Homo sapiens: one gene and its partner. Each later gene encodes a partner of the first gene's protein in a complex. Each region holds a gene or a part of one and is shown on either strand. Other genes may lie near its edges.

Region 1 (16,824 bases):
AAGTTTCTTTTATTTATAAAAGAAAAAAAGCAACTCTTCACCATTCTGCATCTCCAATGGCTTTGGAAAATATATAATCTCTTCCATTAAGATTCATAATGCCATCCTTGAGATGAAATTTCCATTTGTTTTTACTTCTGTGTATCTAAACAAAAACAACATTTTAAAAATTGAGAGATACAATCAGAAAACAGAGAAAACAAGTAACAAAAAACCCATACACACACACACGTACACACACACCCCCCCACAAAACAGTATTTACAGTATTGTATTTGCAAATTGGTTTGTTTTTGTAGAAGAAGGGTCTCCTATGTTGTGCAGGCTGGGCTCGAGCTCCTGGCCTCACGTGATCCTTCTATCTCAGCCTCCCAAAGTGTTGGGATTACAAGCGTGAGTCACAGCACCTGGCCTAAAAATTGGTTTCTTAATAAAGTTTAATTTCACCAAAAAGAACAACAACAACAAAAAAACCACACACAAAACTCACTAGGTGGGTCTAAAAACAAATTTATCTGTAATTAGTACTATTTTATAGCTTTTAGTACTTGTGTTCATTAAAGTAGTTAAAAAATATTTCTTTACAAAATGTCTTATCTCTCTACCAGGTTTGCATATATATTTTCAAGGTCTACCTCAAAAAGACTATCCTCCACAAAGCTTTCCCAAATCTTACCAGCTAAAACTATTCTTTTCCACTGTTAAATTCCCAATGGTATTTTCATTGACATTTCTTACATTATTTGTAAGTAATACAATTATGGACTCATTTCTTCTACCAAAATAAAACTCCTTATAGAGTTCTCAAGACCTAACTACCATGGAACCTTATACATAGCAGTATTTTAAAAATACATCTAAAGGATGCTAATCATCCAGTCACTTACACCAGATTTCAAAAACTATGTACATCCACAGTTAAACAAAAAGAGCTGAAGGGCAGGCTCTGGGCACTCCCATCTTTGCCTTCACTTATAGTCCGTAGTTGTTTGTAATTCCATGGATTTGGTGGGGGAGAGGAGTTGTAAAACTTAATGAACTGAAGTGACCTTTCTTCCTTTTCCCAGTAAGTCACACTAATTATTTAATGTTCAAGTTCCACATCTTCTGCAAAGAAGGCCCCCTGGTTCTCCCTATTCTATGATCTAAAGGTACCTAAAAAAAAAAAAAAATCAACTAGTTCAGGCTTTCATTTTCAGAAGAAGAAATGACAGATTGGATAGGGTTCAATGGTTTGACCAAGTGTATACTGCTACTAAGTGACAATCATGATTTTCAAGTCTTGGTCCAGTACGCTTTTACTAAATCAGTCTGTTTCATATAATAATGCAGAAATGCTCAACAGGTATAGATATTTTCTTTTTCTTTTTTTTCTTTGAGACAGAGTCTCACTCTGTTATCCAGGCTGGAGTGCAATGGCACGATCTTGGCTCACTGCAACCTCCCCCTCCCAGGTTCAAGTGATTCTCCTGCCTCAGCCTCCTGAGTAGCTGGGATTACAGGCACTCACCATCACGCCCAGCTAATTTTTGTATTTTTGTAGAGATGGGTTTCACCAGGCTGGCCAGGCTGGTCTTGAACTCTTGACCTCAGGTGATCCCCCACCTCGGCCTCCCAAAGTGCTGGGATTACAGGCGTGAGCCACTGCACCCGGCCAGGTACAGATATTTTCTGAGATCTCATTCCTAAAATTCCATGGCCTAACCTCCCAGTGCAAACATTCTTCATGACATATTCCTGGCAAATGGTTGTGCAGTGTCTGCTTAAATACGATTAGAAACAGTGAGCAAAGAATTTCAAATTAAGTTATTCCTTTTTGGAACAGCTCTCTTGTAAAATCTTTCAGAGTTTACCCTTACGGAAATCTGCTTCTCCAACTTCCATTTATTGATCCTAGCTCTGCTTTTTGAGACTTAAAAAAAAAAAATCACTCAATCAAACAACCTTCATCTTATTTGGAAACTACTCTCATGTTCTTCTTCTGGATTCAAACTTTGCTTACTTATTAAAGCAAAACAAAGCACAATAAAGGTAAAACAGCAGGTAGGGTAAAGACTGTTGGATTAAGAACTAATTATATCTCTGGTCTAAATACACTACATAAATGCTAAATGTAGCATCTTAAGATTGATGACTTGAATGTCTAACGGACATACCAGACTTGGCATGTCCAACCAGCTCCACATGCAGCTTTTCCTCATCTGAACTGATGGTATCACCATCCTTCTTTCAGAATCCTCATCAAAAAATCTCAAGAGTCATTCTTGATTCCTTTTTCTTTTCTACCACAAATCTCAGAGTCAGGAAATGCTGTTAACATTCTTCCTTCAAAACAAATCCAAAATCCAACTACTTCTCACCAACTTTAATACCATCACCATAGGCCGAGTCATCATTATCTCCCATGTGAATTATTATAATATCCCCCTAAATAGTCTCGTTTCAGCAACCTCTGCTTCCTCCTCATATTATGCTCTCTACAAAGAAAGCAAAGTAATCCTTTCAAAATTTAAATCAGTTCATACCATTTGTCTCACTGAAACCTTCCAATAACTTTCTGATTCACTTAAGAGTAAGAGCCATGTCCTTACAAAATCCTTACTATCTGCCTTCCCTTACCTCTCTACCTACTACTGTACTCTCCTCTTCCCTCACTCCAGTCTAGCCACACAGGCCTCCTTGCTGTTCCTCACATACAACAGACTCTGCCACCAGATGACAGGGCTAACTCTTTCCAAGTCTTTGCTAAAATGTCATTTTCTCCAAAGACCTACTATGACTATCCTATTTAAAACTGAAACCAAACCTGTCCTCTTTCCCTGCTCTTTATTTTTCCATACCGACTATCAGCTTCTAACATATAAATATTTTATTATGTTTTAAATAAGTAAATAAATCCTAATTTATTATGTTTTAGCATCTATCTCCCCTGATTGGAGTAAGCTTCCCAATGGCAGGGACTGTTCTGTTTTGATCATTAGTGTATCTCAAGCTCCAAGAATAGTGCCAAGGGACATCATAAACAGTATCTGTTGCACATGAAAAGAGCTGTCTCCCCTTATCTTTGAATTCCTATAAAGTATTATTTATTCTACAAACGTGTATACAAATGTATTTCCAGCATGAACCAAGTGACTGCAACCAGAAAGACCGTGGGCTTAGCTAGACAAAAACAAGAAAGTGATGAGTAGCCAGGAAATAAGAGATTCTATAGACAAGTAAAGAAACTGCCTGCATTCTGTCATAGGACAGGACAATTTGCAAAAAATAAATGTACCAAAGTTTCATGGGCCAACTAATCCACACAGTCAACACTGAAGTCATGTTGGGTAATAAATGGTAAATATTTTTATATTAATAGAAGTACAAAGTCACAACTTAAAAAGCAATCTATTTACCGGCCCTAAGCCCTTCATGAAGGAATATTCTTAAAGCCAGGAGAAAGCCCTCTTAAATTTCCTAATTAAAAATGTGTTAAAGCAAGTTTACCTACATCTGATGCTATTTTCGCTAAATGCTGTATCAGCCCTTATCCACCCACACGTAAGCAAGAACTCTACCATATTATTAGCATTTAACTAAGATTCTGATTTGATTGGCAATACAAGCTTTATTAGTCGTTCTATGATCTCTTCTAAAATTGACTCATTGTTGACATTCTAAAGTTAAGGCTTCAAAACTACATTCCTGAAATTCAAGTTGGCTCAAACAATATCCAACCTCATTTTGCGCAGTCAAAGAAAACTGCTGTTCTTTACTATTGGCTAAAGACATCAAGCCACCACCCTCCTCCAATCTTCAGAGCAATTCATTTGATTCTCAAAATTAGACCTCTGCAAATTTTAAAATTATTTATCATTCAGCACACCATTTAGAGCTATCTCCCACTTACTAATTTAAAACAGTAAAGTAATGTCTCTGGGAGCAAAACAAACCAATTTTAACATTTAAAATATTATGAGTACAGTTTGTGCCAAAGGAGAATACAACCATTGTCTTAAAGTAGGAAGACACTTAAAAGTATATTCTTCAGTCAGGCTAAAACAAAGGTCCTCGCTTGCCTGATAAATCTGACATCTCATCATGAAATTGTGTTCTGGATAATTTGGTTGCAAGGAGATCCTCTGAGACTTCCTAACAATAAAGATTTAATGGTATCTTTTGTTTTAACCTCATAGTCTTGCTCTATGTGTATCTAACAGGAAATTACATTTATTATACTGCACATGGTATATGGTTTTAAGAACAGTCTCTCAGAAGTCATTATGCACAAAAATGAATGCTGTGAAACTCTCAATGACCTTACTGTCTTCATTCTATAACTTCACTGGTAAAACTAGCCTAACTCCACCTTTTTATTAGTAAATAAGATCCATAGTGTTGGCATTCTCCCTATAGATCTGTTTGAAGTAAGCACGGCTACTTATCACATTCATTTCCATAAAAGCAACAGAATTAAGATTTTCTTCATCTATAAAGGAAACTTCATGCAAGGCATGAATTTTACATGTTCATAACTACATCGCCAGGGCCTAGAATAGTGTCTGGTAAATTTCCGCACTCTATAAATGTTGAATAAATAAGCTTTTGTTAGAATTTTTAGCATTTGGTAAAGATCTCTACTAAAATTATAAATGCAACGTAATATTTGCATGCATTATAAATTTAATGATTGCAATAAAAAAACTGTATTACAATTTAAATGTCTTGAAAACAAAAATCTCAGAAATAATACAAATAAATGTAACAAAAATACTTGGAAAGAAGCACCCTGTCTAGGAATTAAGAAAATAAGGAATCAATGGCTAGTTTTCACAGTATCTGGTTTAAAAATTCCTTAATGTTAGCAAACTACAGCAAAGTTAAATAATATTTTAAATAATTTTCAGTAAAAACTTATGTTTGTTTTTAGCACTGTTCATTGCCTTAGTCTTTTCCTTAATAATAAAAACAGTTACAGAGATTCAATTGAACCCTTCTAGTTTTGAGATAGTTGAGGCTAAATAGAAAACAGAATTATCTCATTGAGTTAGCTATTACCACAAAGGACAACCTCAAAGTGGCTGTTTACTCTGCTTACAAGTTCAAAGACTGTCTAAATAGAAAAAGAAGATCGTAGCTCTTTTCATTTCATTCATAACTTATTTTTCAAACATAAAGCTAAGAAATTAATCTTTCATTCTATTAAAATAATCCACAAAACTCTAACAGGGTTTTCGTACTATTCATAATGAATTTAAGAGGCATGAATCAGCTGCCCAAATGTTTCAATAAGGCAGAAAGAATAATGTAGGGAAGAAATTACAACACAAATAACGTCAGTAATCTGAAGATGACATCCTTACCTTATCATATTGGCATACAACAACATTTTCTGTGTCAAAGAGTTCCTGTCCTTCCTCATCACTCACATCATCTTCACTATTGAGGGGCTCCTACAAATAAAAGGAGAGTTCTTATTACTATAAGAAGGCCTTAATATTCACTGAAAAAAAAAATATAATGACCTTGATGTTCTTTGAGAACCAAATGCCAAATGCATATATGTACGCCATGAATTTAATATTGTCAAATCAGCTGTTAACAGTTTGCCAATATTACTGAAATGTAAGAAATTAAATATAATTAAATTAGCTAAGCTATGTAATTTTTAAGTCTGAAAAGATGTTTATCTTTATTTTCTTCTTTCTTTTTTTGAGACACAGTCTCGCTCTGTAGCCAGGCTGGTGCAATCTCGGCTCACTGCAACCTCTGCCTCCCGGCTTCGAGCAATTCTCCTGCCTCAGCCTCCCCAGTAGCTGGCACTACTGGCACGCGCCACCACACCCAGCTAATTTTTGTGTTTTTAGTACAGACGGTGTTTCACAATGTTGGCCAAGATGGTCTTGATCTCTTGACCTCGTGATCCACCCCGCCTAGGCCTCCCAAAGTGCTGGGATTACAGGCGTGAGCCACCACACCCGGCCTATCTTTATTTTCTTTATTTTTTAAAAACAGTACAAGAAGATAATTCTCTACAATAACTGTTTAAGATGCCTAGAAAAGGACCTAATATGAAGGTTCAAAAGAGCTAATGGCACTATGTACTACAAATCATATAAAACAGAAAACAGTGGAGAAATTAGAGGAGAAAAGAAGAGCAATGCAATAGGCTAGCAGTCTGCCTTGCTGTCTTTACATTAAAGAACTTGGACTCTAAATACAAATCAGCATGTTTAGCATGATGATGGTTATGGTAGAGGTATGAAGCAGAATTAAGATTCAGACTTTTTTTTTTTCTTAAAGGCAGAAAGTAGGAAATCTCAGCATTAAAGAGAGTTAGGGGCCAAGATAAAACCTAACTAGAGCATAAAATAAACAACCATGTTAAATTTCGCTTCAATTGTGACAGAAGATAGAAGATGTAACTGAGATTTCTAATAAATGCAGAAAGAGAAGACAAAACCAAAGTAGAGAAGACAATAATCAAGACTATATTATGGACAGGCACAGTGGCTCATGCCTGTTAATTCTAGCACTTTGGGTGGCCTAGGCGGGACAATCACTTCAGGCCAGGAGTTTGAGACCAGCCAGGGAAATACAGTGAGATGCCACCTCTACAAAAAATAAAAAAAATTAGCGAGGTATGGTGGCATATGCCTATAGTCCCACCTACTCAGGAGGATGAGGGTGGGAGGATTACTTGAACCCAGGTGGTTGAAGCTATGAGCCTTGATCACACCATTGCACTCCAGCCTGGACAACAACCTGAGACTCTATATCAACAATAAGAACAAAAAAAAAAAATTATTATGTCTAGGCCTATACCTACTTACACAGGTGTGTATGTATAGATATTCTTTAATTTAAAATAGGTATCATCAATGTAAAATGAAAAAAATTTTCTACACCAGGCGTGGTGGCTCACACCTGTAATTCCAGCACTTTGGGAGGCTGAGGCAGGCAGATCACGAGGTCAGGAGATCGAGACCATCCTGGCTAACACGGTGAAACCCCGTCTCTACTAAAAATACAAAAAAATTAGCCGGGCATGGTGGCAGGTGCCTGTAGTCCCAGCTACTCGGGAGGCTGAGGCAGGAGAATGGCGGGAACCCAGAAGGCGGAGCCTGCAGTAAGCCAAGATTGCACCACTGCACTCCAGCCTGGGCAGCAGAGTGAAACTCCGTCTCAAAAAAAAAAAAAAAAATCTCTGAGGTAAAATTCAAGTTAACAACATTCACTATTTTAGCATTTGTACATGTACAATTCAGGTGCAATGAACATTTACAGTGTATATAACACTCACCACTACCTAGTTCCAGAACATTTCATCACTCTTACCTATTAAGCTGTCACTCCCCATTCTCCCTGTCCCCTGGCAATCTATAATCTGCTGTCTGTATGGATTTGCCTATTCTGGATATTTCATATAAATGGAATCATATAATATGTGGCGTTGTGTGGCTGATGTCTTTCACATAGCATGTTTTCAAGGTTCATCCATGTTGTAGCATATACGAATACTTCATTCTTCTTATGGCTAAATAATATTCCACTGTTATCAGCTGATGAACATTTGGGTTTATACCACTTGGATATCATAAATAGGGCTGCTATGAACAGTCACATACAAGTTTTTGTTGAAAAACATGTTTTCAGTTCTCTTGTGTATATATTTAAGAGTGGAACTGCTGGGTCATATGGATAATTCTATACTGAATTTTTGAGGACTATCAAACTGTTTCCCACAGCAGCTGTACCATTTTACATTTCCACCAACAATGCACAAGGGCTCCAATTTCTCCAAATCCTCACCAGCATTTATTTTCTCTTTCTTTTTTGAGTATAGCTATTCTAGAAGGTGTAAAGTGGTTATCTCAGTGTGGTTTTCATTTGCATTTCTCTAATGACTAATGATGCTGAGCATCTTTTCATATGCTTGTTAGCTATTTGTGTATCTTCTTTGGAGAAATGTCTATTCAAGTTCTTTGCCAGTTTTTAAATTGCATTATCTTTTTGTTGTTACGCTGTTTAAGAGTTCTTTATATATTCTGGATAGTAGATCCTTATCAAATACATGATTTGCAAATATTTTCTCCCAGCTACTCAGGAGGCTGAGGCAGAAAGATCACTCCAGCCCGGGAGGTCAAGATGCTGAGGCTGCAGTGAGCCACGATCATGCCACTGCACTCCAGTCTGGGCAACAGAGTGAGATTCTGTCTCAAACAAAAACAAAAACAAAAACCACCTTTTTAATCTACAAAGTCCACTTTTTCTTTGATTGCTTGTACTCTGGGTGTCATGTCTAAGAAAACTGTTGCAAGCGGCTGGGCACAATGGCTCACGCCTGTAATCCCAGTACTTTGCGAGGCCGAGGTGGGCAGATCACGAGGTCAGGAGATCGAGACTATCCTGGCTAACACAGTGAAACCCCGTCTCTACTAAAAAAAAAAATACAAAAAATTAGCCGGGCATGGTGGCGGGCACCTGTAGTCCCAGCTACTTGGGAGGCTGAGGCAGGAGAATGGTGTGAACCCGGGAGGCTGAGCTTGCAGTGAGCCGACATCGCGCCACTGCACTCCAGCCTGGGCGATAGCGTGAGACTCTGTCTCGAAAAAAAAAAAAAGAAACTGTTGCCAAAGCTATGGAGATTTACCCCTATGTTTTCTTCTAAGAGTTTTATAATTTCAGCTCTTAGATGTAGGTCCCTAATCCACTTTAATTTTTGTATGTGGTATGCCGTAGGGGTCCAACTTAACTCTTTTGCATGCGGATATCTAATTGTCCAAGCATAATTTGTTGAAGACTATTCTGTCCCTACTGAATAGTCTTGGTTGATGTTAAAGTTTTGCAACAAATAGCATAAATAGCAATATTCTATTTTAAAAAGATTAAGTTTACAGATCCAAAATGTTTGAAAAGTGAAAGAATGAAAAAAGCTGTACCAGGCAAATTCTAACCACAACAAAGCTGGTACAGCTCTAACAGTATCATACAAACAGACTTCATGGTTAAAAAAAATTTACTAGCAATAACTTAAGACATTGTATGATCATAAATGGTTCAACTCACTGAGAAAAAACAATGAATGTTAAACTTACATGCACCTGTTTTGAGGCTCAAAATACAAAAAGGAAAAATGGCAGAAAAACAAGAAGAAATATATCAACTACCATAGCAGGAAACATGAACATATCTCACTCAGTAGTAAAAAATGGATCAAGTGGCCAGGCGCGGTGGCTCATGCCTATAATCCCAGCACTTTGGGAGGCCAAGGTGGGCGGATCACGAGGTCAGGAGATCAAGACCATCCTGGCTAACACAGCGAAACCCCATCTCTACTAAAAATACAAAAAATTAGCCGGGCGAGGTGGCGGGCACCTCTAGTCCCAGCTACTCAGGAGGCTGAGGCAGGAGAATGGCGTAAACCCGGGGGATGGAGCATGCAGTGAGCAGAGATAGTGCCACTGCACTCCAGCTTGGGTGACAGAGCGAGACTCCATCTCAAAAAAAAAATGGATCAAGCACACAAAAAATATCAAGGATACATAAAGAGCATCTGAGCAAACCTACTGACAATATAAATCTAACAGACACATACAAATACCAAACAAGTGCAGAAAACACATTCTTTTCAAAGCATATACAAAAACTGACCAAATCAAGCAAGTCTCAAGCAATTTCAAAAGATTCACACATCACACAGATCATATTCTCTACAAACAAAACAGTTAAGTCAGAAAAGAATAGAATGGGAAAAACACACTAGAGAGAATAAAGCTAAAAGTTTACTCTTTGAAAACATTAATAAAATCAACACATCCCTGGTAAGACTGAACAGGGAAAAAAAAAGATGGCACAATAATTATATTAGGAATGAAGATGACAAAGGATTCTGGCATCAAAAAGACAATATCATGATTAACTTCATGTTAATCAACTTGAAAATTTAGATAAATATATAGAGAGTCCTAGAAAAATATAACTTATCAAAACGGTCTCAAACAGAAACAAAATACTTGAAGGGCATGAGATTACTAGACCCAGGTATCTGTAGTGTCATGTTTTAACAAATATCAACAGAAGAATTAAATACAATCTTTGAAAAAAAAAAAAGAGTTCAAAATACAGGAAACATGTCCCCAAATTCATTTAACAAAGCTACCATAACTGAAAACCTTGTAAGAAGAGTATGAGAACAGAAAATCACACAGTATCTATCAATCATAAATATCTACAAAAAAGTCCTCAACAAAATGAATTCAGCAATTTATAAAAAGAGAAATATAAAATGATCAAGTTGTGCTATCCCAGGAGTACAAGATTGGTTTACAAATAGAAAATCAATTAATGAAATCCATTATAAATAACATTACGTGAGAAATTATACAAATCATTGCAGAAAAGGTGTTTAATTAAATGCAACATTCACTTACAGTTTAAAAAACAAAGCAATGCAAAGAAGGGAATTTACTTAACCTGATGAAGATATCCATTAAAAAAAAAGAAAACCCACAACAAACATTAAACTTAACAGTGAAGCATGGAAAAGATTACTTTTCAGTTTAAGAAGAAGAGAAGAGTGCCTGCTATCACCACTTCTAATCAATACTGTTCCCGAAGGCTTAGCCAATGAGCCACAAAAAACTGCCGTTCTTCATATAAGATGTGAAAGTCTACACAGAAGATACAAAAGAATCTACAGATACATTATGAGGACTAACAAAAGACATTAGGACGGTGGCTGGTTCAAGGATGAATATTAAAAGCGCTACATATTTCCATCCTACCAATAAACTGGAAAAGGTAATAAAAACATGTTACTTCAAGAAGCACTGAAACTATGAAGAATTTAGGGGGAGGAAACGGGCAAGAGACCTCAATAAGCACTTCTATACAAAACACAAATATCAAATAAATATACAAAAAGAGGCTAAAACTCCTAAGTGAGGAAATGCAAACTAAAACCAAAATGAAATAATACTATTTTCTACCTACCAGACCAGCAAAAATCAGGAAGCCTGACACTATCAGGTATTGATAAGGGGGTATGGACATCTGCACAATTATGTATTGAATGGCAGAAGTGATTTGGCATTTTATTATAAAGTTGCAGATGTGCATGACTTAGGAGCCAGAAGTTCAATGTTCGGTATAAAATTTAGAGAACCTCTTGCATTTGTGTCCCCAGAAGACATACACTACAATATTTTATAACTGTTTGTAACAGTAAACAACAAGAAACAATCCTTATGTCCACTGGATTAGAAAAATTGACAAATAAAATTATGGTATATTCAGCAATGAAAATAATTATAGCTATATGCAACAACTTGGATAAACCTCAGGAATATCATTTTAAGGGGAAAAAACCAACTTGCAGAAGAATACGTAATTACTTCATTTACGTTGTAAACATGCAAAACTAAACAATATGCTATTTAGGAATATAAATATATATGGTAAAATATAAAAGCAATTAATAATCAACACAAATGTATGAGCAAAGGTACTTTGATGGCCTAGGAATGATGGGATTAGGGAGAGGCATCTAAGGCACTTTAAATAATGGAATTTTATTTTAACTAGATGGTGGGCACCAGGATGATTTTTATCTTGAAACATTTCTATTCATTTGTGTCTATTCAATATTCAATAATAAACTATGTTTTCTTCAGAAAAAAAATTACTTAGATAATTTAGAAGAACTTTGTACTAAGAAACAAAAAGACTGCATTTTAGGCTAACGAAGGCAATTAACAGTGAAAATTGTGGTGGGACAAATAGTTTTTGGAGCCTAGTAACTAAGCTGAAATAGTGAGGAAAACAAAGGCATATTTATATGCTTCTAGAAGAACACAGACATTAAGGGTACATAGGTTTTTAAGGAAGTGGTATAGAACATGGACCAAAAGGTTTTAAATATTTAATAAATTTGTGACATTTGGTTCTTGAGTTTGCTCTCTCCCCAAATGTTGCCACGCTTTTTAAATTACTGAAGCAAAAGATTAACCACATCTATTTATCTACCAATGTCTTATGTTTAAGCCACATTATAAATGCGTAAGCCAGAGTTAGAATTACCTGTACTCTTTACTACACATATTAATACAATTTAATTTGTTATACATTTTTTATTACCAGCTATATGAAAGTTATATTTTATGAAGATAAATATAGCCAGAATATAAAAACCTTACTAAAGTTAAAACAATCTAACTTTATCTTTAAAATCTTATGTTGTACAGCACCTAACAGTCTCTGAAAAAAACAGGATATAATTTATCAGTGTTGTACCAACTAAAAAAGGAAATAATCAAGTAGATTATTTTAAGTATGTTACTAGAAACTTACTTCTTCCACCTGCCCATCTTCAGCTCCATCTTTCTCTTTGTCTTCCTCCTCATCATCATCATAGTCTTCTTCTTCATCTTCATCTTCTTCAGATGATGTATCCCCAGTTCCATCAACTTGTAAGACCAATGGAGCTTGTGTTTGAGCAGGCTGGGCCTGCGGTTGCTGCTGGCCAGTTGCAGTTATCTGTGCTTGGGCTGGTGTAGGTGCTGCCACTGTCGTAGGTATAACTTGAGTCTTATTTCCTGTAAATAAGATTTGCTGAGGCTGGATGATGACACCTGTCTGTGGTGAAATCCCTCCAGGAAGAGGAGCCAGCACCTAAAGCAAAAGAAAACCACATAACAGTAACTAGTTAAGAGGATCAAGTATGGTACACAGAAATAGAAACAAATGCTTAAGATTCACCAGAATGGCCATATTTCATACACAGTTAAAAACTACCAAAGTACAAAAGCAATTAGTTTAACTAGTGTAGTGACCCATTAAATTTCTATTTTATCAAATTTCTAGAAAATAAGGATTTTCTAAAGATAACTGCTTCATTTATTGAGCACATACTATGTATATGCCAGCTACCAGGACAAAAGTTATACACTGCCTTCACATGAAGAACACTGGACTGAGAATCTGAAAACCTGGGTCTACCTTTTTTTTTTTTTTTTATAGATGGAGTCTCGTTCTGTCACCCAGGCTGGAGTGCAATGGTGTGATCTCGGCTCACTGCAACCCCTGCCTCCTGGGTTCAAGCAATTCTCCCACCTCAGCCTCCTGAGTAGCTGGGACTACAGGTGCGCGCCACCATGCCCGGCTAATTTTGTTATTTTTAGCAGAGACGGGGTTTTGCCATGTTGGTCAGGCTGGTCTCGAACTCACGACCTCATGATCCGCCCGCCTCCCAAAGTGCTGGGATTACAGGCGTGAGCCACAACGCCTGGCCAACCTGGGTCTACTTTTGTCTAAAGTCAGACATAAATACAGCAGACGCAAGTCATTTAACTCCTCTTGGCCTCTGTCGTTTCACTGTCAAACTAGGCTTAATGGTTCTCAATCCTGGCTGCAAATATGAACCACCTGGCAACTTAAAAAGTACTGATACCTTGGCCATACCCCTAATATTCTGACTCAGTGTGAGATAAAAGCTAATTATTTTTCTAAAAACCACCAGATCAGATTTCTGAAGTTCCTTTCCAGGTTCTGCATCTAGGATTCTAAAGTAAGCCACAACTTGAAAAAATATATACTAACAAATATTAACTATATGTATTATAATAAAGGAGGAGGACTAGATGCTTGTTACTTGCCATTAGGTTCAAGGAATGCAAAAATAAGACACAGTATTTCCTTTAAAATGCTTACACGTGGTGTAACAACACAAAAGACAAAAAAATGGTATAATAGACAAAGCACTAACAACTCAAAAACACAGCAGATGTAGTACAAATATGACACAGTGTTATGGGAACACAAGAGAGTGTACCAAATTCAACTTAGGGGACAAAGCATGATCAAATATTACTTATATTATTAGTAAGTAGTTTCTGTTTGTGCTTAAAGGCAGCGGTCCCCAACCCCTGTTAGAAACTGGGCTGCACAGCAGGAGGTGAGTGGTGGATGAGCCAGCATCACCACCTGAACTCTGCTTCCTGTCAGATCAGCAGCAGCATGAGATTCTCATAGGAGCAGGAACCCTACTGTGAACTGCACATGCAAGGATGGAGGTTGTGCACTCCTTATGCCTGATGACCTGAATTAAAAGTTTCACCCCGAAACCATCCCTGCTGCCCAGTACATGGAAAAATTGTCTTCTGCAAAAACCAGTCCCTGGTGTCAAAAAGCTAAGAGACTGCTGCTTTAAGGAGATTAGCCAGGTTTTTCTATTTGTTTGGGGGAAGTGCAGGGAGTTGCCAGACGGCATTCTTAAGAGAAGTGTAACATCAAGTGAAACCCAGAAGTGACAGCAGTACATAATTTTGGAAAGATGTAAATAAACTGGATTAATAGTACTGCTCTGATCTTGTCTCTATCATAATACTATTTTACTGACATTTAAAAAAGAGACAGACACATAAACATATAAAGTACATAAGTTCCTCAAGAAAATAACCATTCCTCTTTCATTTTAGTGCCACAGCACAAGAATATAACACAAGTAGATCCAAGTGTTTATTTTGATGTAAATGCAGCTAAAGAAAATAACTGGGAGCATGGCAAGAAATAAACCTGGAGAGTTCAAAGAAACAAGATCCACAAAAAGATTTTATAAACCATGTTGAGTTGTTTAGGCTCTTCTCAGTAGGCAATGAAAAGCTGTTAAAAGTTTTAGGATTTTTAGAAAGATAGGCCAGGCACAGTGGCTCACGCCCATAATCCCAGCACTTTGGGAGGCAAAAGCGGGCAGATCACCTGAAGTCAGGAGTTCAAGTCCAACCTAGACATGGTGAAACTCTGTCTCTATTAAAAATACAAAAATTAGCTGGGCACAGTGGTGCGTGCCACTAATCCCAGCTACTCAGGAGGCTGAGGCAGGAGAATCACTTGAACCCAGGAGGCGGGAGTTGCAGTGAGCTGAGATTGCGCCATTGCACTCCACCCTAGGTGACAGAGACTCTGTCTCAAAAAAAAAAAAAAAAAAAGATGACTATAAATCAGCCAGGTTAGGAGGGCAAAAGATGAGAGGCAGAGAAACCATTAAGAAGACAATGCAGCATTTTAGTGACAAATCATGGACAGTATGAACTAAGGAAATGAAAAAAGAGGCTGAGAAAAAAACAGTGTCAAACATATTAAGGGACTGCAACCATGGCAAAACTGCAGTTAAAGAAAAAAAAAAGGCCGGGCGCAGTGGCTCACACCTGTAATCCCAGCACTTTGGGAGGCCGAGGCGGGTGGATCACAAGGTAAGGAGATAGAAACCATCCTAGCTAACACGGTGAAACCCCATCTCTACTAAAAATACAAAAGTTAGCCAAGTGTGGTGGTGGGCGCCTGTAGTCCCAGCTACTTGGGAGGCTGAGGCAGGAGAATGGCATGAACCCAGCAAGCAGAGGTTGCAGTGAGCTGAGATCGCGCCACTGCACTCCAGCCTGGGTGAAAGAGCAAGACTCTGTCTCGAAAAAAAAAAAAAAAAGAAAAGAAAAACTATTAACAAGAATTGGTAGGGCTTGATACCTTGGGTATTAGAGGTAAGGAAAAGGGAGGATTCTACACACCCACTTCCAGTAAGCATCATAAAACTAGAGTCATGTCTGTGTCATTCACTCCTAAATCCCCTGACCCTTGTGAATACCCCGAGACTCAGTAACTGCTTATTGAATAAAGGCTGAATGACCAGCTTAGGAAGCTGGAAGGAGAGTGCTGCCACCTTCGAGGGGATGATGAAGGATGGGCAGAGACAACAGTAATTGTTTAATACATGTTTAATACATGCTGAATCTAAGTTAAGCTGTATACAGGAGAAATTTGAAACAACTGGGTCTGTAGCACTGAAAAAGAGTCTTTTGTGCATATAAGGAGAGGGAAACTACCCAGGGAATACATACAGAATAAAACAGAACCCCATACTGATCATAATAGAAGATTATTTTACCTGCTGTATAACAGGAGCTTGTACTCCACCAGGCTGCATTTGTGGTATAACCTGTTGTTGTAGAACCACTGACTGCTGAGGCTGAAAGATATATTGGGCACCATTGGCTGCTCTGACCACCTGAAGAAGCTGGCCTAAAGCAAAAAGCATGCATTCCGAGTTATCATTTTAGCAGTGACCATCTCAAAAGAAATGAATTCATATTTAATTTCATACCACCAAAGGCACAAGAAATTATCAAGAAAACTAACAATTTTATTAAAGGTTGTCATTCATACACAGTATGCATAATCCTCCCCTTCTCTGACTTCTCGCCATGTTCAAATACATTCCTTAAAATGTTTTATTTTTCATATTTACATCCTCATTCAGCTATTTCCAACAAGGTTTTAACAACAGATTATGAGACTTGACTAAAGCTTACATTATCTTTGCTAACCTTAGGAGTGAAGAAAGAGCAGTAAGATCAGACACTTCGGGAGCTGTTCATTTTTAAAGCTTTAAAGGAACAAAAGCTTAATAGCTCATTTAATATCTTGAACCAAACAAAGCACCAAAGAACTTTGCTTCAAAATTGGTAAAAGCAATAAAAGTTCACAGAACCAGTTATCATCATTGTCATACAATTCACACAGAATCAAATTCCCCCAATATGTTCCTTTAGACAACCCAGAATCTTGAATTGATTAAAAAGCAAATTACATCTTATTAAAATATGTAGCAAGACAAGCCCCTAATTTCACAAATTTACAAATTAACAAAAATAACATACACAGAATAGAAAATAAATAATAACTATATAATCAAGATTATAGGGAACACTTAAAATCCATGTAAATAAATTTTTCAAGCACCAATATGCCAAAACACATGAGCTAGACATTGGTCTTTTGTCAATGAAG
Region 2 (16,824 bases), on another chromosome or scaffold:
TGCAATACCACTTAGTGGTATACTAAACTCCCGTATGTAAATAGGTATGTTTCTAGTGTCTCTATTCTGTTCCATGAATCTAATTCTCTATCCCTGAATCAATATCATACCATCTTAATAATTACAACTTTATATTAAGCTTTGGTATCTGATAGGGAGAGACCTTATTTTTCTTCTTCTTCAAAATTGACTTCACTATTCTTGGTCCCTTGCCTTTCCATATAAATTTTAAGTTCAGCATGGCAAATTCCATAAAACAATATGGTGATTTTAATTGGCATTACACTGAATTCGTAGAACTGAGGAAAACTGACATCTTTTTGTTGAGTCTTTCCATCTATTAATACGGTATATCTCACCATTTACTTGGGTCATCTTTTGTGTTCCAACAGAGCCTTACAATTTTCTGTCTAAAGGACTACACAGCTTTAGGTTCATCTATTTCTAGGTACCTTTAGTTTTGAATGCCATTATGAATAGTGTCTTTTTATTATTAAAACTCCTAGTTAATTGTTACTGGTATACAGAAGTTTTTAAATGCAGAAATTAAGGCCATTTCTGACATCCCCCTGGCCAAAATAACCCCTCTAGTCACTCTTTATCACATCACCAAATGGTACTTATTCCTTAACTGATTTCAGAGTCTCTCTGCCCCCACCAAAATTAGTTACCTGTTCACCATTGTATCCCAAGCGTCTAGAATAATAGCTGACACACATCAAGTGCACAAAAATGGAACTGATGAGATCAAGGAAGAGAATGTATGCAAGATGAAAAAAAGCAAATAAAAGATACTTGGGAAGAAGAAGACTTGGAGGCAATTTTTTTATTTTAAAGAGAGTGCAACAATATGGAAATCACCAGTTGGAAAAGATTTGAGGGATAGAAAGAGGGAACTAAATGGAAGAGCTGGGTTCCTTAGCGATCACATGAACACACACGATGTTAAAAAAAAAAAAAAAAAAAAAAAGGCAGCATGAGGTCGGGCGCGGTGGCTCACACCTGTAATCGCAGCACTCTGGGAGGCCGAGGCGGGGGATCACCTGATGTCAGGAATTCCAGACCAGCCTGGCCAACATGGACAAACCCCGTGTCTACTAAAAATACGAAAATCAGCCGGGCGTGGTAGCGCACGCCTGTAATCCCAGTTACTAGGGAGAATGAGGCAGGATAATTGCTTGAACCCAGGAGACGGAGGTTGCAGTGAGCCCAGATCGCGCCACTGCACTCCAGCCTGGCAGACAGACCGAGACTCCATCTCAAAAAAAAAAAAAAAAAAGGCAGCATGAGCTTAATGCGGGAAGTACAATTTAACCTAAGGAACAGAAAACAAGAATCTCATATCTCAACTAGTAAAAATAATGACAGTGTTCCTTTAGACTTACAGAACAGACTTGGGGAAAGGGAGTAACTTTAGAACCTTCTGGGGTCTTTCACTTTAAAATGACCGTTGCCGAGTTTAGAGCTCTCTCAGCATTCAATCTATTCCATCTCTGGGGTTAGAGAGGGAGCAGGAAGCGGTGGTCTGCAAGGCTCAGAAGTGACTGGTGAGGCCCTTTCCTCCTCCTCCTCATCTCTCCGTGACTACCGAGCCCGGGAAGACGGACCGGCAGGTGCACTCCCCAAGGCCTCGACAGCAGCCAGAGAAAGGCAGCGACAGGGAAAGACGAGTCAGGCTCGCGACCACCAGAGAGAGAGGCCCTCACGCCCAGCCGAGCGTCAGCTGGTCGGTCCGGTCCGCGCGCCAGACGGCGGTGCTCGGCCGTGCCCGGTCCCTGCCCTCCCCATTCTCCGCTCCCCACCGCGCCCAGCTGCGCCGACGCCCCCGTCCGCCCCCACACCACCCCTGCCTTCACGTCCTACCTGCCGGCAGGCGGACTCAGCCCGTGCCCAACTGCTCGTCGGACCCCGTTGTCTGGGGAGCCCTACTCTTTCCGCGGCTCCCGGCCGGGACCCTCCACCCGGCGGCTGGCGGCTCGTGACCCCGCCCCCTCGGCCCGCTCTGGGCCCGCCTCCCGCCGGCTGGCTCCACCCACAATAGCGTCCCTAGCGCGATGGCGTATCGGCGCAGGCGCACTCTGCCGGCAACGCCGAGGCGCTTCTGCATCTGTGGGCCGAGGTGTGTGGCGAGCGTCCGAGCGGCTGGGGAAAGTGGGGTGTGGGAACACTGAGGGGTCCCAAAGAAAGGGGAGAGGAAGAGAAAAGCCCCAGAAGCCTGTCCACCGGGTGCTGGGGGCACAGGGCGGTGTCCCCCACTCTCTCCGGGCCCTTCCTGGCGGGGCCGCACGGCAGTCCCCCCCTCGTTTAATCGTGGGTTTCCTGTGGGGCTAGGGCTCGCCCTGCGCCCAGGTGTAAGTGGAAGTTAATTAAATGGGCGTACGCTGAGTGGTTTGTTTCCAGCCTAGGTCCGCACGGGACGTGATTTATTTAGTGAAGGGGCACAAGATCTGGAGATCTGGCTTGTACTTTTTTCCTTTGGCCAGGAACTACGGCTTAATCTCTTCCTTTGGTCTCCTCATATGTAAAATGAGGTGGCTGAGGCCGGGCGCGGTGGCTCACGCCTGCAATCCCAGCACATTGGGAGGCCGAGGCGGGCAAATCACTTGAGGCCAGGAGTTCGAGACCAGCCTGGCCAACATGGTGAAACCCCGTCTCCACTAAAAATACAATAAATTGGCCTGGCGCGGTGGCTCACACCTGTTGTCCCAGCACTTTGGGAGGCCGAGGTAGGTGGATCATTTGAGATCAGGAGTTCGAGACCAGCCTGGCCAACATGGTGAAACCCTGCCTCTACTAAAAATACAAAATTTGGCCTGGCGTGGTGGCGGGCGCCTGTAGTCCCCGCTGCTTGGGAGGCTGAGGCAGGAGAATCGCTTGAGCCCGGGAGGCAGAGGTTGCAGTGAGCCGACATCACGACACTGCGCTCCAGCCTGGGCGACAGAGTGAGACTCTGTCTCGAAGTGTATATATACATATATATATATTATATATGTATTTTATATATAATATATATTTATTTTATATATAATATATAATATGTATATTATGTATATTATATATAATACGTATATTATATATAATACATATATATAATATGTATATTATATATTATATATAATATTATATTGTATATTATATATTATATATAATATATTGTATATTATATATATTATATATTATATATATTATATTGTATATTATATATAATATATTGTATATTATATAATATATTGTATATTATATATAATATACAGTATATTATATATAATATACTGTATATTATATATAATATATTGTATATTATATATAATATATTGTATATTACATATATTGTATATTACATATAATATATTGTATATTACATATATTGTATATTACATATAATATATTGTATATTATATAATATATAATATATATTATATAATATATTGTATATTATATATTATATAATATATTGTATATTATATATTATATAATATATTGTATATTATATATAATATATTGTATATTATATATTATATATTGTATATTATATATTATATATAAAAGTGTGTATATATATACACACACACACACACGATACAACACAGTACATTAGCTGGGCTTAGTAGTGCATGCCTGTAGTCCCAGCTACTCGGGAGGCTGAGGTGGGAGGATCGCTTGAACCCAGGAGGCAAGAGGTTGCAGGGAGCAGAGATCGCGCCACTGCACTACAGCCTGGGCGGCAGAGCCAGACCCTGTCTCAGTAAAATAAAATATAAACTAAAAGGAGGTGGTTGGGCTCACTGTATAATTTTTGAAGCACCTTTCAGAACTATCTTCTTTGATTCCTGTCTCCCAGGATCTTACCCTTTGTCATTCTCCTGAATGGGAAAAGAAATCCTTTGAATAATGGACGGTTTATACCTGGGTTGGGCACACTGGTGTAGAGTTAGGCCTCTTGCTTCTATTAGGGCTAATTGACCTTGGGTAGAATTGGCTGGCGAGTAAGATGTGGCATTAATATTCCAAGTAGACTCATTTTAATTTTGTTAAAAAATCAGAATGTCTTTTTTCTTAATGTTAACTGTCTTTCATAGACTTAACTGTTAAATATTGACATTTAATTATTTTGCCTCGTTTCAGAGGCAGATCCCCAAAGTATATGAAAGTTAATGATTTTTAATTTAATGTTACCTTACTCTTTTTATTAGCATTCTTCAGGTCATCTGAACCTTCTGAGAAAACATGGTCAACGTCTTGAAAGGAGTGCTTATAGAATGGTTAGTAGTTTTGATACTGCATGAGTTTTAAGTTTAAATATTGAATCTTGACTTGTATGTATGTCTTTTCTAAAACCCTGTTGTTTTTAAGATATGGATGAAATCAAGTCTTTCGCTTTTAACAAGTGGCACAGATTTTGTTGCAAAGCTCCTGGTGCCAGATTTCAGTCCCTCTGTTGAATTGATGGAACTGGCATGATCAGAGGCAGCATATTTGTTAGATGAGTCGTCTTTAGAGAAACAGTGCTTGCATTCTCCTCAAACATGATGAATTTTAGGGCCTGAAAGAGTTCAGGAACTTGCTTAAGTCTTTACCATTACAAACTGTGGACTTTAAAAAAGAGAAAAACAACAGAGCCAAATGGAGGTTTCTTAAATTCCTTTAGGTACATTCCAGAGGAGAAACTAAAAACCATAAATGGGCAGAGTTGAGTTCCTCAAAGCAATCCAGTGTCCAGGAACCCCGGGAACCCTGCTCTGTGGACACTCCCATTGTCTGAAAATACTACTGTCTACTTTCGGTGCCTCTAATATGAGCCAGTGCATGGATAATGATACTGTTTACTGTGATGGCAAGGCTAAGGAGGAGCAAGACCAAACCCTAGGACACTGCCAACATTTAGAACAGCACTAGCCAATAGAAATCTAATGCAAGCCACAGATATAGTCTTACATTTTTTCTAGCCATCTTAAAAGTAACGTAAAATGAAACAGGTGAAGTTAATATCTTTTGTTTAACCCTGTCTATGCAAAACACTATGCTTTGAACACATACTAAGTCTTCAAAAAAATCTTCATCTTCAAAGTCGAATGGATATTTTAATTTTACAGCACATCTCACAGACTAACCGTGTTTCAAGGACTCTGTAGTGACCTGACTAGTGGGCTACCTTATGCATAGTGCAGATTTGGAGTTTTGATACAGGAGACACCAACAAAGGCAACTAAGAAGAAAATAGCCAGTGAGGCTGGAGGGAGGAAAGCCAAAGGAGGAAGTGTTTTGTAGGGATGAGCGGCTGTGTTGGGCACTGATTGAGAACTGGCATGAGATGAAGACTGGAGTTTTGATGAGAGCCATTTGAATGGAGTGGTGGGGAGATGCCAGATTGAAGTACTGTGGAAAAGGAAAGGGAGGTGAGGAGGTGGAGATGGAGACTTCGGAGAAGTTTTACTGTGATCATGAGCAATCTCATAGAGAACTGGATTGGTAGCTGACGAAGGACATGGTGAGGGGCTCAGGTTCTTGCTATTTTTATTTTAATGTGAAAGACTAGAATGTACGTTGATGAGAGTAAACCACTGCGGGGGAGAGGTATTCACTTGGAAAAGCAAAGGGGGTGGGATCTGGACCCCAGAAGTTCTAAACACACTGTTCTGTTGTCTTTTGAAGGCACTAGGTTTGATGTACTTATTTTCCTATTAATTTGACATAACATAAACATTTTCCTCGTTGGCCTTTAGTGTTATTTTTAAATACAGAGGATACACATACACAGAGTGTCAGCTATCACTTTTTTTCCCTCGTTTCTTCCAATTCTAAGTTTAATCTTCACCCCTGGGTTTGTTAAATATTCACTTCTCTCTTCTGAGGGTTTTGTGTTTTTCTTGGTGTTTTAGATTCATTCATCTAGAATTTATTGGGAGGAGTGGCATAGGTTTGTTAAATATTCACTTCTCTCTTGTGGGGATTTTGTGTTTTTCTTGGTGTGTTAGATTCATTCATCTAGAATTTATTCAGAGAAGAGACATATTATTAGATAAGGATCTAAATTAGCTTCTTTTTTTTTTTTTTGACACGGAGTCTTGCTCTGTTGCCAGGTTGGAGTGCAGTGGCGCGATCTTGGCTCCTGGATTCAAGCGATACTGCTGCCTCAGCTGCCCGAGTAGCTGGGATTACAGGCACACACCACCACACCCGGCTAATTTTATTTTTGTATTTTTAGTAGAAATGGGGTTTCACCATGTTGGCCAGGCTGGTCTCGATCTCTTGACCTCATGATCCACCTGCCCCGGCCTCCCAAAGTGCTGGGATTACAGGCATGAGCCACTGCACCCAGCCTAGCTTCTTTTTTGTTTTGGGTGTTTTTGTCTGTTCATTTTGCCAAATATCTAGTTCTCCACCATTATTTCCTTTCTTAATGATGCTTGATGCCTCCTTAATCACATAATTTTACTCCCCTTGCTATTCTCTTTCATCCCTTCCCACATTCATCTTTCTTGTTGCCTATTCTAGAATAACCTTGAAATAACTTAGTCTGTTTCCAAAATAATCCTTTTGGCATATTGGTTGGAATTGCATTAAACCTACGTTTTAATTTGAAAAAAAAGATGACTGGATTGCATCTTAAAGAACAAAACTCTGGGGAGACTCTGAAGTCTCAGTGCCCGGTTTGCTGTCCCGTATCTAACCTCTGAATTCTACCTGGTCTCTCTAATGACTGTCCATCACCTTGCACTTCAGGGTAATCCCCAGACTAGCAGTAATAGCATCATCTGGAGCTTGTTAGAAATGCAAAATCTCAGACCTCACCCTAAATCTACTAAATCAGAATTGTGCATACAAAGAATCTTGTTAAGATGCATTTAAATTTTGAGAAGCAATAATACTGTTAATCAGCTTCAGTTTAATAATGTTTCCCTGTGGAGAAGTGTTTTGCACCAGGACTATTAAATTTTATTTTGCAGGTTAGGTACCATCCTTGCAAAACTAATTTTTCCCTTTGAAGTGAATTCTAAAGTGTAGTCTGCACAATTTTTCAAAAGGGTAACTCTGTCTTCCCAAAAACACAAGTCTTCCAAAAAGATTTTGGGCCTAAGAAATAACATAGATTCCCAAAGGAAAGGGTATGGCCAGTGCTAGTGGATTCCCTTTCACAGTTAGATGCAGATGTTAGGATGGTAACTGGAAAAGTCCTTCAGTTTCCCTCATGTCCATATTTGATGCCAAGGAGAAGCCTGTTAATAATATGATTATCAGTATAAGTCTGTTTATTACTTCATAATATCCATGGATTGTATGAAGCATTTAGGTGTATTGGAGTATGGAATTTGATAGGTCTGGAGTTTACAGGCAGACCACTCAAGGATCTTCTACAGCTGTTGCAGGTGAATACCAAAATTGAGGCTCAGCCCTGGAAGCCAAGTTGGTTTTTGGCTTCATGCAGGAAAGAATTCAAGAATGAGCCACAGAGTAAAGTGAAAGCAAGTTTATTAAAAATGAGGGAATAAAAGGGTGGCTACCCCATAGGCAGAGTGGAGTGGGGAGGGTGGGAAGCAGGCGGGCCTGCTAACTGGCTATTTTATGGCCATTTCTTGAGTATATGTTAAACAAGGGGTGGATTATTCGTGAGTTTTCTGGAAAAGAGGCAGGGATTCTGTGGAACCAGGAGTCCCCAGTCCAGACCATACGGGGTAACTTCTAGATATTGCCATGGCATTTGTAAACTGTCGTGGTGCTGGTGGGGGTGGTTTTTAGCGTGCGCATGCATTATGATTTGTGTATGATAGTGGTGAAGGTTGCTTTTGTTGCCATCTTGGTTCTGGCTGGTTTCTTTACTGTATCCTCGCTTATCGGTGGGGTCTTCTGACCTGTTGTTTACTGTCTCTCTTGTCTTGGAAACTAGTCCTGCTGAATTCCTATCTCACAGCTGCTTCCACTGTCCCAGGAATCTCTCCAAATTCCAGTCCCATCATTGTATTAATAGAAACTGATGTGTAATAGCTTATATAGTGCTGATCCACATATATCTTAGATTGGCTTCACTTAACTGCCATATTTAAACTCCATTTCTATCAGTTAAGTTTAACTGATTTTGAGTCTGCAGAGATTTGCTAAAGAAGTAAACCAAATTATGATGATGGCCATTTATTCTCACCTTCAGAGAATTGAAAAATCAGGGCACTTGGATATAATCTTAACTCCCAAGGGCTTATCAAATACTAAAATTGAAGGCTATAAAAGAAGTTTTATGTTTATAAATTTGCACTTTTATGTCAAAACTGAAAGGTTGGTGAAAATTTCCTCTTTGTTGGGATCCACCATCAATTGCCAGGCTCACACTAAGTATTCTCCCAAATCTAGCCACCAAGCAATTACCAAAGCAAGCAACACATGACCACAGTATGTCTGTGTCCAGTTCCAGATGCTGGAGCAGACCTCTGGTATAACAGTTGCCACAATTGGTTTGGCAAGTGCTTCAGCAAAGATTTGTTGCCAAGGTGCAAATTCCAACCAGTTTACATCACAATAGCAAAGAATCTGGAGAAATATGTATTATTAAACTACACTTATCCTTATGAGTTTGGCTTCTAAAGCTATATCGTTTATGAGAAGCGAAGTAAGAAGTATGGCAAAACCAGTCTAACCATTGTTCTGTTTTTTTCTCAGCATGTATAAATCTTTTCTCAGCCTTTGCCTCTTAGTAGGGCCATGTTCGCTGAAGTTTTCCAGGCACCCAAAACTGTGCCTGAGATGTGTGTGTGTGTGTGTGTGTGTGTGTGTGTGTGTATACACACACACACACATACACATATATAGATATGGCTTAGTAAATATTTGTGTACTGAATAAATTTTGTTAACAGAATTGAGTCCAGGTTTGTGATCTCAGCCAAAATCCCAAATTTATTAATGTTCCTTTAGAGCCTCTCTATTCCTACAGTGAGATTCACAGTGAATAAGATGGGATTCTTGATAAATTAAAGTTTTAGTTTGAAACAGATGTGTATACTAGGCCTCCTTTTAGCATGTTGTATATCAAAATAGCTTTTAAATGAGGAGGCTGTTGTCTTCCAGTCATAGCTTTTAAAAAGCAAGCACCCCACCAAGCTGCTGATGGAAGTGTAATCCCAAGAAACAACTGTAAGCAACTTGTGATGGGTGTTTTGTGCTTTTATATCCTTTAACACAATAACTCCGTTTCTATAAGTTTATCTTTAGGAAATCGCTGGGTGCAGTGGCTCACGCCTGTAATCCCAACACTTCAGGAGGCTGAGGCGGGTGGATGGCTTGAGGTCAGGAGTTTGAGACCAGCCTGGCCAACATGGTAAAACCCTGTCTCTACTAAAAATACAAAAATTAGCTGGGCATGGTGGTGGACGCCTGTAATCCCAGCTACTGGGGAGGCTGAGGCAGGAGAATCACTTGAACCCAAGAGGCAGAGGTTGCAGTGAGCCAAGATCATGCCACTGCACTCCAGCCTGAGCAACACAGTGAGACCCCATTTCAAAAAAAAAAAAAATTTTAGGAAATGATCAGAACTGCCAATAAAAATGTATGTATTTAATGTGCTAGAAAAAGAAATTTGTTGATTGTGGCATATTTTAATCAAATAATATAGCTGTTAAAATATTTGCAGACATTTTAAGTGATTCAGGGAAATGACACTGTACAATGATGTTAAGTGAAAACACCTGGATTCCTGTACTAACGCTGTTTTCCATGTGACATGTGCTATACTAAGCACTTGCTAATATTAATTTAGTTTTCACAACAGCCCTTTGAGGTAAGTGCTGTCATCTCCATTTATGGATGTACAAAGTGAGATACTTTGTATCAATTAATCAATTGCTCAGTTACATAGCTATTGTTAAACTGGGATTTTAAATCCCGGTATTCTGGCTCCAGAGCCCAGGCTACTAAACGTTACATATACTATCTCTCCATTATAAAACTAAGTATAATATTGTGTTTGCTTTTGTTTTTTTTTTGAAACGGAGTCTCACTGTCACCCAGCCTGGAGTGCAGTGGCACAATCTTGGCTCACTGCAGCCTCTGCCACCTGGGTTCAAACGATTCTCCTGCTTCAGCCTCCCAAGTAGTTGGGATTACAGGTGCCTGCCACCATGCCTGGCTAATTTTTGAAGTTTTAGTAGAGATGGGGTTTCACTATCTTGGCCAGGCTGGTCTTGAACTCCTGACCTCGTGATCCACCCACCTCGGCCTCCCAAAATGCTGGGATTACAGATGTGAGCCATTGCGCCCAGCCTATGTTTGCTTTTTAAAAGGATATACGTATGTCTTAGAATTATACCATATATATTCATAGGTTAATGGTTTTGTAATTGAAATAGTAAATTGCCGAGACCAGCTCGGTCTGGGAGACCCTAACCCAGCAGCGCTAGAGGAATTAAAGACAGACACACAGAAATATAGAGGTGTGGGGTGAGAAATCAGGGGTCTCACAGCCTTCAGAGCCGAGAGCCCCGAACAGAGATTTACCCACTTATTTGTTAACAGCAAGCCAGGGATGAGCATTGTTTCTATAGATTATAGATTATAGATTACCTAAAAGTATTCCTTATGGGAAACAAAGGGATGGGCCAAAATAAAGGGATGGGTTGGGCTAGTTATCTGCAGCAGGAGCATGTCCTTAAGGCACAGATCACTCACGCTATTGTTTGTGGTTTAAGAAAGCCTTTAAGCGGTTTTCCGCCCTGGGTGGGCCAGGTGTTCCTTGCCCTCATTCCAGTAAACCCACAGCCTTCCAGCGTGGGTGTCATGGCCATCATGAACATGTCACAGTGCTTCAGAGATTTTGTTTATGGCTAGTTTTGGGGCCAGTTTATGGCCAGATTTTGGGGTGCCTGTTCCCAACAGTAAATCATTTGATAGGGATAGAACTAATTGTAATTTAAACCTCTCTGCCTATATCCTCTCACATGGTCTTGGCATTTTAATTGCTCATTTGAGTACCTACTATGAGCAAGATGTTTTAGAAATATTCTGTAGTCCATCAACTTTGCAGTGTAGCTATGGTACTAACATTGCTGTTACAGATCACAGGCTCTTTGGCTCCCTATGTAATAAAAATTAACACAGAGCTATACAGTTTTCCCAGATGAGGCTTTTATTTCAGGGTTTATCCACAAATGCAAGGGAGACAGTACAGTAGTAAGAACTCTGCGGCTGACCCCCAAAAAAGCTGATGGGGACTTTTTGATTAGGCAAAGCATGGGAATTGACATCAGGGATAAGGTATGCAGGCTGCGCTGGGTAAAGCACATGAAGGGTACAGTATGTGGTCAGCATCTGTGGTTGCAGTGGTTATCATACTTTAAGTTCTGGGTTAAATGTGCAGAACGTACAGTTTTGTTACATAGGTATACATGTGCCATGGTAGTTTGCTGCACCCATCTACCCGTCACCTACACTAGGTATTTCTCCTAATGTTATCCCTCCCCTAGACCCCAACACCCCACAGGCCCTGGTGTGTGATGATCGCCTCCCTGTGTCCATGTGTTCTCATTGTTCACCTCCCACTTATGAGCGAGAACATGCAGTGTTTGGTTTTCTGATCTTGTGATAGTTTGCTGAAAATGATGGTTTCCAGCTTCATCCATGTCCCTACAAAGGACATGAACTCATCCTTTTTTATGACTGCATAGTATTCCGTGGTGTATATGTGCCACATTTTCTTAATCCAGTCTATCATTGATGGACATTTGGGTTGGTTCCAAGTCTTAGCTATTGTGAATAGTGCCACAATAAACATACATGTGCATGTGTCTTTATCATAGAATGATTTATAATCCTCTGGGAATATGCCCAGTAATGGGATTGCTGGGTCAAATGGTATTTCTAGTTCTAGATCCTTAAGGAATCGCCACGCTGTCTTCCACAATGGTTGAACTCCCACCAACATTGTAAAAGCATTCCTGGCTGGGCGCGGTGGCTCACACCTGTAATCCCTGTAATCCCAGCACTTTGGGAGGCCAAGACAGGCGGATCACGAGGTCAGGAGATCGAGACCATCCTGTCTAACACGGTGAAACCCCGTCTCTATTAAAATTAGCCAGGCATGGTGGCTACTCAGGAGGCTGAGGCAGGAGAATGGCATGAACCCAGGAGGTGGAGCTTGCAGTGAGCCAAGATTGTGCCACTGCACTCCAGCCTGGGAGACAGAGCGAGACTCCATCTCAAAAAAAAAAAAAAAAAAAAAGCATTCCTATTTTTCCACAACCTCTCCAGCATCTGTTGTTTCCTGACTTTTTAATGATCGCAATTCTAACTGGTGTGAGATGGTATCTCATTGTGGTTTTGATTTGCATTACTCTAATGACCAGTGATGATGAGCATTTTTTTATATATCTGTTGGCTGCATAGATGTCGTCTTTTGAGAAGTGTCTGTTCATATCCTTTGCCCATTTTCTGATGGGGTTGTTTGCTTTTTTCTTGTAAATTTGTTTAAGTTCTTTGTAGATTCTGGATATTAGCCCTTTGTCAGACAGGTAGATTGCAAAAATCTCCCATTCTGTAGGTTGCCTGTTCACTCTGATGATAGTTTCTTTTGCTGTGCAGAAGCTCTTTAGTGTAATTAGATCCCACTTGTCATTATTGGCTTTTGTTGCCATTGCTTTTCTTGTTTTAGACATGAAGTCTTTGCCCATGCCTGTGTCCTGAATGAAGCCCAGGTTTTCTTCTAGGATTTTTATGGTCCTAGGTGTTATGTTTAAGTCTTTGATCCATCTTGAGTTGATTTTTGTATAAGGTGTAAGGAAAGGGTCCGGTTTCAGTTTGCTGCATATGGCTAGCCAGTTTTCCCGACACCATTTATTAAATAGGGAATCTTTTCCCCATTGCTTGTGTGTGTCAGGTTTGTCAAAGATCAGATGGTGGTAGATGTGTGGTGTTATTTCTGAGGCCTCCGTTTTGTTCCATTGGTCTATATATCTGTTTTAGTACCAGTATCATGCTGTTTTGGTTACTGTAGCCTTGTAGTATAGTTTGAAGTCAGGTAGCGTGATGCCTCTAGTTTTGTTCTTCTTGCACAGGATTGTCTTGGCTATGTGGGCTCTTTTTTGGTTCCATATGAAGTTTAAAGTAGTTTTTTCCAATTCTGTGAAGAAAGTCGGTGGTAGCTTGATGGGGATAGCATTGAATCTATAAATTACTTTGGGCAGTAAGGCCATTTTCACGATATTGATTCTTCCTATCCACGAGCATGGAATGTTTTTCCCTTTGTGTCCTCTCTTATTTCCTTGAGCAGTGGTTTGTAGTTCTTGAAGAGGTCTTTCACATCCCATGTTAAGTTGTATTCCTAGGTATTTTATTCTGTTAGTAGCAATTGTGAATGGGAGTTCACTCATGATTTGGCTCTCTGTTTGTCTGTTATTGGTGTATAGGAATGCTTGTGATTTTTGCACATTGATTTTGTATCCTGAAACTTTGCTGAAGTTGCTTATCAGCTTAAGATTTTGGGTTGAAATGGTGGGGTTTTCTAAATATACAATCATGTCATCTGCAAACAGAGATGATTTGACTTCCTCTCTTCCTATCTGAATACCCTTTATTGCTTTCTCTTGCCTGATTGCCCTGTCCAGAACTTCCAATACTATGTGGAATAGGAGTGGTGAGAGAGGGCATCCTTGTCTTGTGCCGGTTTTCAAAGGGAATGCTTCCAGTTTTTGCCCATACAGTATGATATTGGCTGTGGGTTTGTCATAAATAGCTCTTATTATGAGATAATAAGAGATACATTCCATCGATACGTAGTTTATGGAGAGTTTTTAGCATGAAAGGCTGTTGAATTTTGTCGAAGGCCTTTTCTGCTGTTGAATTTTGTCGAAGGCCTTTTCCGCATCTTTTGAGATAATCGTGGTTTTTGTCATTGGTTCTGTTTATGTGATGGATTACATTTATTGATTTGCGTATGTTGAACCAGCCTTGCATCCCAGGGATGAAGCTGACTTGATCGTGGTGGATAAGCTTTTTGATGTGCTGCTGGATTCGGTTTGCCCGTATTTTATTGAAGATTTTTGCATAGATGTTCATCAGGGATATTGGCCTAAAATTCTCTTTTTTTGTTGTGTTTCTGCCAGGGTTTGGTATCAGGACAATGCCGGCCTCAAAATGAGTTAGGGAGGATTCCCTCTTTTTCTGTTGATCGGAATAGTTTCGGAAGGAATGGTACCAGCTCCACTTTGTACCTCTGGTAGAATTTGGCTGTGAATCCATCTGGTCCTGGACTTTTTTTGGTTGGTAGGCTATTAATTATTGCCTCAATTTCAGAATCTGCTGTTGGTCTATTCAGAGATTCACCTTCTTCCTGGTTGAGACTTGGGAGGGTGTATGGTCCAGGAATTTGTCCATTTCTTCTACATTTTCTAGTTTATTTGCATAGAGGTGTTTATAGTATTCTGATGGTAGTTTATATTTCTGTGGGATCGGGTTGATATCCCCTTTATCATTTTTTATTGTGTCTGTTTGATTTTTCTCTCTTTCTTCTTTATTAGTCTTGCTAGCGGTCTATCTATTTTGTTGATCTTTAAAATAAACCAGCTCCGGGATTCATTGATTTTTTTTTTTTTTGAAGGGTTTTTTTGTCTCTATCTCCTTCAGTTCTGCTCTGATCTTAGTTATTTCTTGTCTTCTGCTAGGTTTTGAATTTGTTTGCTCTTGCTTCTCTAGTTCTTTTAATTTGATATTAGGGTGTCGATTTTAGATCTCTCCTGCTTTCTCTTGTGGGCATTTAGTGCTATGAATTTCCCTCTACACACTGCTTTAAATATGTACCAGAGATTCTGGTACGTTGTATCTTTGTTCTCACTGGTTTCAAAGAACATCTTTATTTCTGCGTTAATTTTGTTATTTACCCAGTAGTCATTCAGGAGCAGATTGTTCAGTTTCCATGTAGTTGTGTGGTTTTGAGTGAATTCTTAATCCTGAGTTCTAATTTGATTGCACTGTGGTCTGAGAGACAGTTTGTTGTGATTTCTGTTCTTTTACATTTGCTGAGGAATGTTTTACTTCCAATTATATGGTCAATTTTAGAATAAGTGTGATGGGATGCTGAGAAGAATGTATATTCTGTTGATTTGGGTCGGGGAGTTCTGTAGATGTCTGTTAGGTCCACTTGGTCCAGAGCTGAGTTCAAGTCCTGGATATCCTTGTTAATTTTCTGTCTCATTGATCTGTCTAATATTGATGGTGGGGTGTTAAAGTCTCCTGTTATTATTGTGTGGGAGTCTAACTCTCTTTGTAGGTCTCTAAGAACTTGCTTTACGAATCTGGGTCCCCCTGTATTGGGTGCATATACGTTTAGGTTAGTTAGCTCTTCTTGTTGAATTGATCCCTTTACCATTATGTAATGGCCTTCTTTGTCTCTTTTGATCTTTGTTGGTTTAAAGTCTGTTTTTAATCAGAGACCAGGATTGCAACCTCTGCTTTTTTTTTTTGCTTTGCTTTCGCTTGGTAGATCTTCCTCCATCCCTTTATTTTGGGCCTATGTGTGTCTTTGCACATTAGATGGGTCTCCTGAATACAGCACACCAACGGGTCTTGACTCTATCCCATTTGGCAGTCTGTGTCTTTCAATTGGGGCATTTAGCCCATTTACATTTAAGGTTAATATTGTTATGTGTGAATTTGATCCTGTCATTATGAGGCTAGCTGGTTATTTCGCCCATTAATTGAGGCAGTTTCTTCCTAGCATCGATGGTCTTTACAATTTGGCATGTTTTTGCAGTGGCTGGTACCGGTTGTTCCTTTCCATGTTTAGTGTTTCCTTCAGGAGCTCTTGTAAGACAGGCCTGATGGTGACAAAATCTCTCAGCATTTGCTTGTCTGTAGAGGATTTTATTTCTCCTTCACTTATGAAGCTTAGTTTGGCTGGATATGAAATTCTGGGTTGAAAATTCTTTTCTTTAAGAATATTGAATATTGGCCCCCACTCTCTTCTGGCTTGTAGGGTTTATGCGGAGCGATCCGCTGTTAGTCTGATGGGCTTCCCTTTGTGAGTAACCTGACCTTTCTCTCTGACTGCCCTTAACATTTTTTCCTTCATTTCAACCTTGGTGAATCTGACAATTATGTGTCTTGGGGTTGCTCTTCTTGAGGAGTATCTTTGTGGTGTTCTCTGTATTTCCCGAATTTCAATGTTGGCCTGCCTTGCTAGGTTGGGGAAATTCTCCTGGATAATATCCTGAAGAGTGTTTTCCAACTTGGCTCCATTCTCCTCGTCACTTTCAGATACACCAATCAAACGTAGATTTGGTCTTTTCACATAGTCGCATATTTCTTGGAGGCTTTGTTCATTTCTTTTCATTCTTTTTCCTCTCATCTTGTCTTCTTGTTGTATTTCATGAATTTGATCTTCAATCAATGATATCCTTTCTTCTGCTTGATCAAATCGGCTATTGAAGCTTGTATGTGCTTCACGAAGTTCTCGTACTGTGGTTTTCAGCACCATCAGGTCATTTAAGCTCTTCTCTACACTGGTTATTCTAGTTAACCATTCGTCTAAACTTTTTTCAAGGTTTTTAGCTTCCTTGCGATGGGTAGAACATCCTCCTTTAACTCACAGAAGTTTGTTATTACCGACCTTCTGAAGCCAACTTCTGTCATCTCGTCAAACTCATTCTCCATCCAGTTTTCTTCCCTTGCTGGTGAGGAGTTGTGTTCCTTTGGAAGAGAAGAGGTGTTCTGGTTTTTGGAATTTTCAGCCTTTCTGCTCTGGTTTCTCCCCATCTCTGTGGTTTTATCTATCTTTGGTCTTTGATGTTGGTGACCTATGGATGGGGTTTTGGTGTGGATGTCCTTTTTGGTGATGTTGATGCTACTCCTT

What was found.
Region 2: GTF2A1 (region 1) and GTF2H5 share a complex: the UniProt entries of both Homo sapiens proteins name them as parts of the TBP-based Pol II pre-initiation complex.

The regions. Positions count from the first base shown.
Region 1 is NC_000014.9:81,180,186-81,197,009, forward strand, and holds part of GTF2A1 (transcription initiation factor IIA subunit 1), read right to left. Parts: intron 16,057-16,824; coding exon 15,923-16,056; intron 12,655-15,922; coding exon 12,334-12,654; intron 5,436-12,333; coding exon 5,346-5,435; intron 146-5,345; coding exon 38-145; 3' UTR 1-37. UniProt on the Homo sapiens protein: TFIIA is a component of the transcription machinery of RNA polymerase II and plays an important role in transcriptional activation. TFIIA in a complex with TBP mediates transcriptional activity.
Region 2 is NC_000006.12:158,166,277-158,183,100, forward strand, and holds the start of GTF2H5 (general transcription factor IIH subunit 5), read left to right. Parts: upstream 1-2,073; 5' UTR 2,074-2,119; intron 2,120-4,193; 5' UTR 4,194-4,227; coding exon 4,228-4,262; intron 4,263-16,824. UniProt on the Homo sapiens protein: Component of the general transcription and DNA repair factor IIH (TFIIH) core complex, which is involved in general and transcription-coupled nucleotide excision repair (NER) of damaged DNA and, when complexed to CAK, in RNA transcription by RNA polymerase II.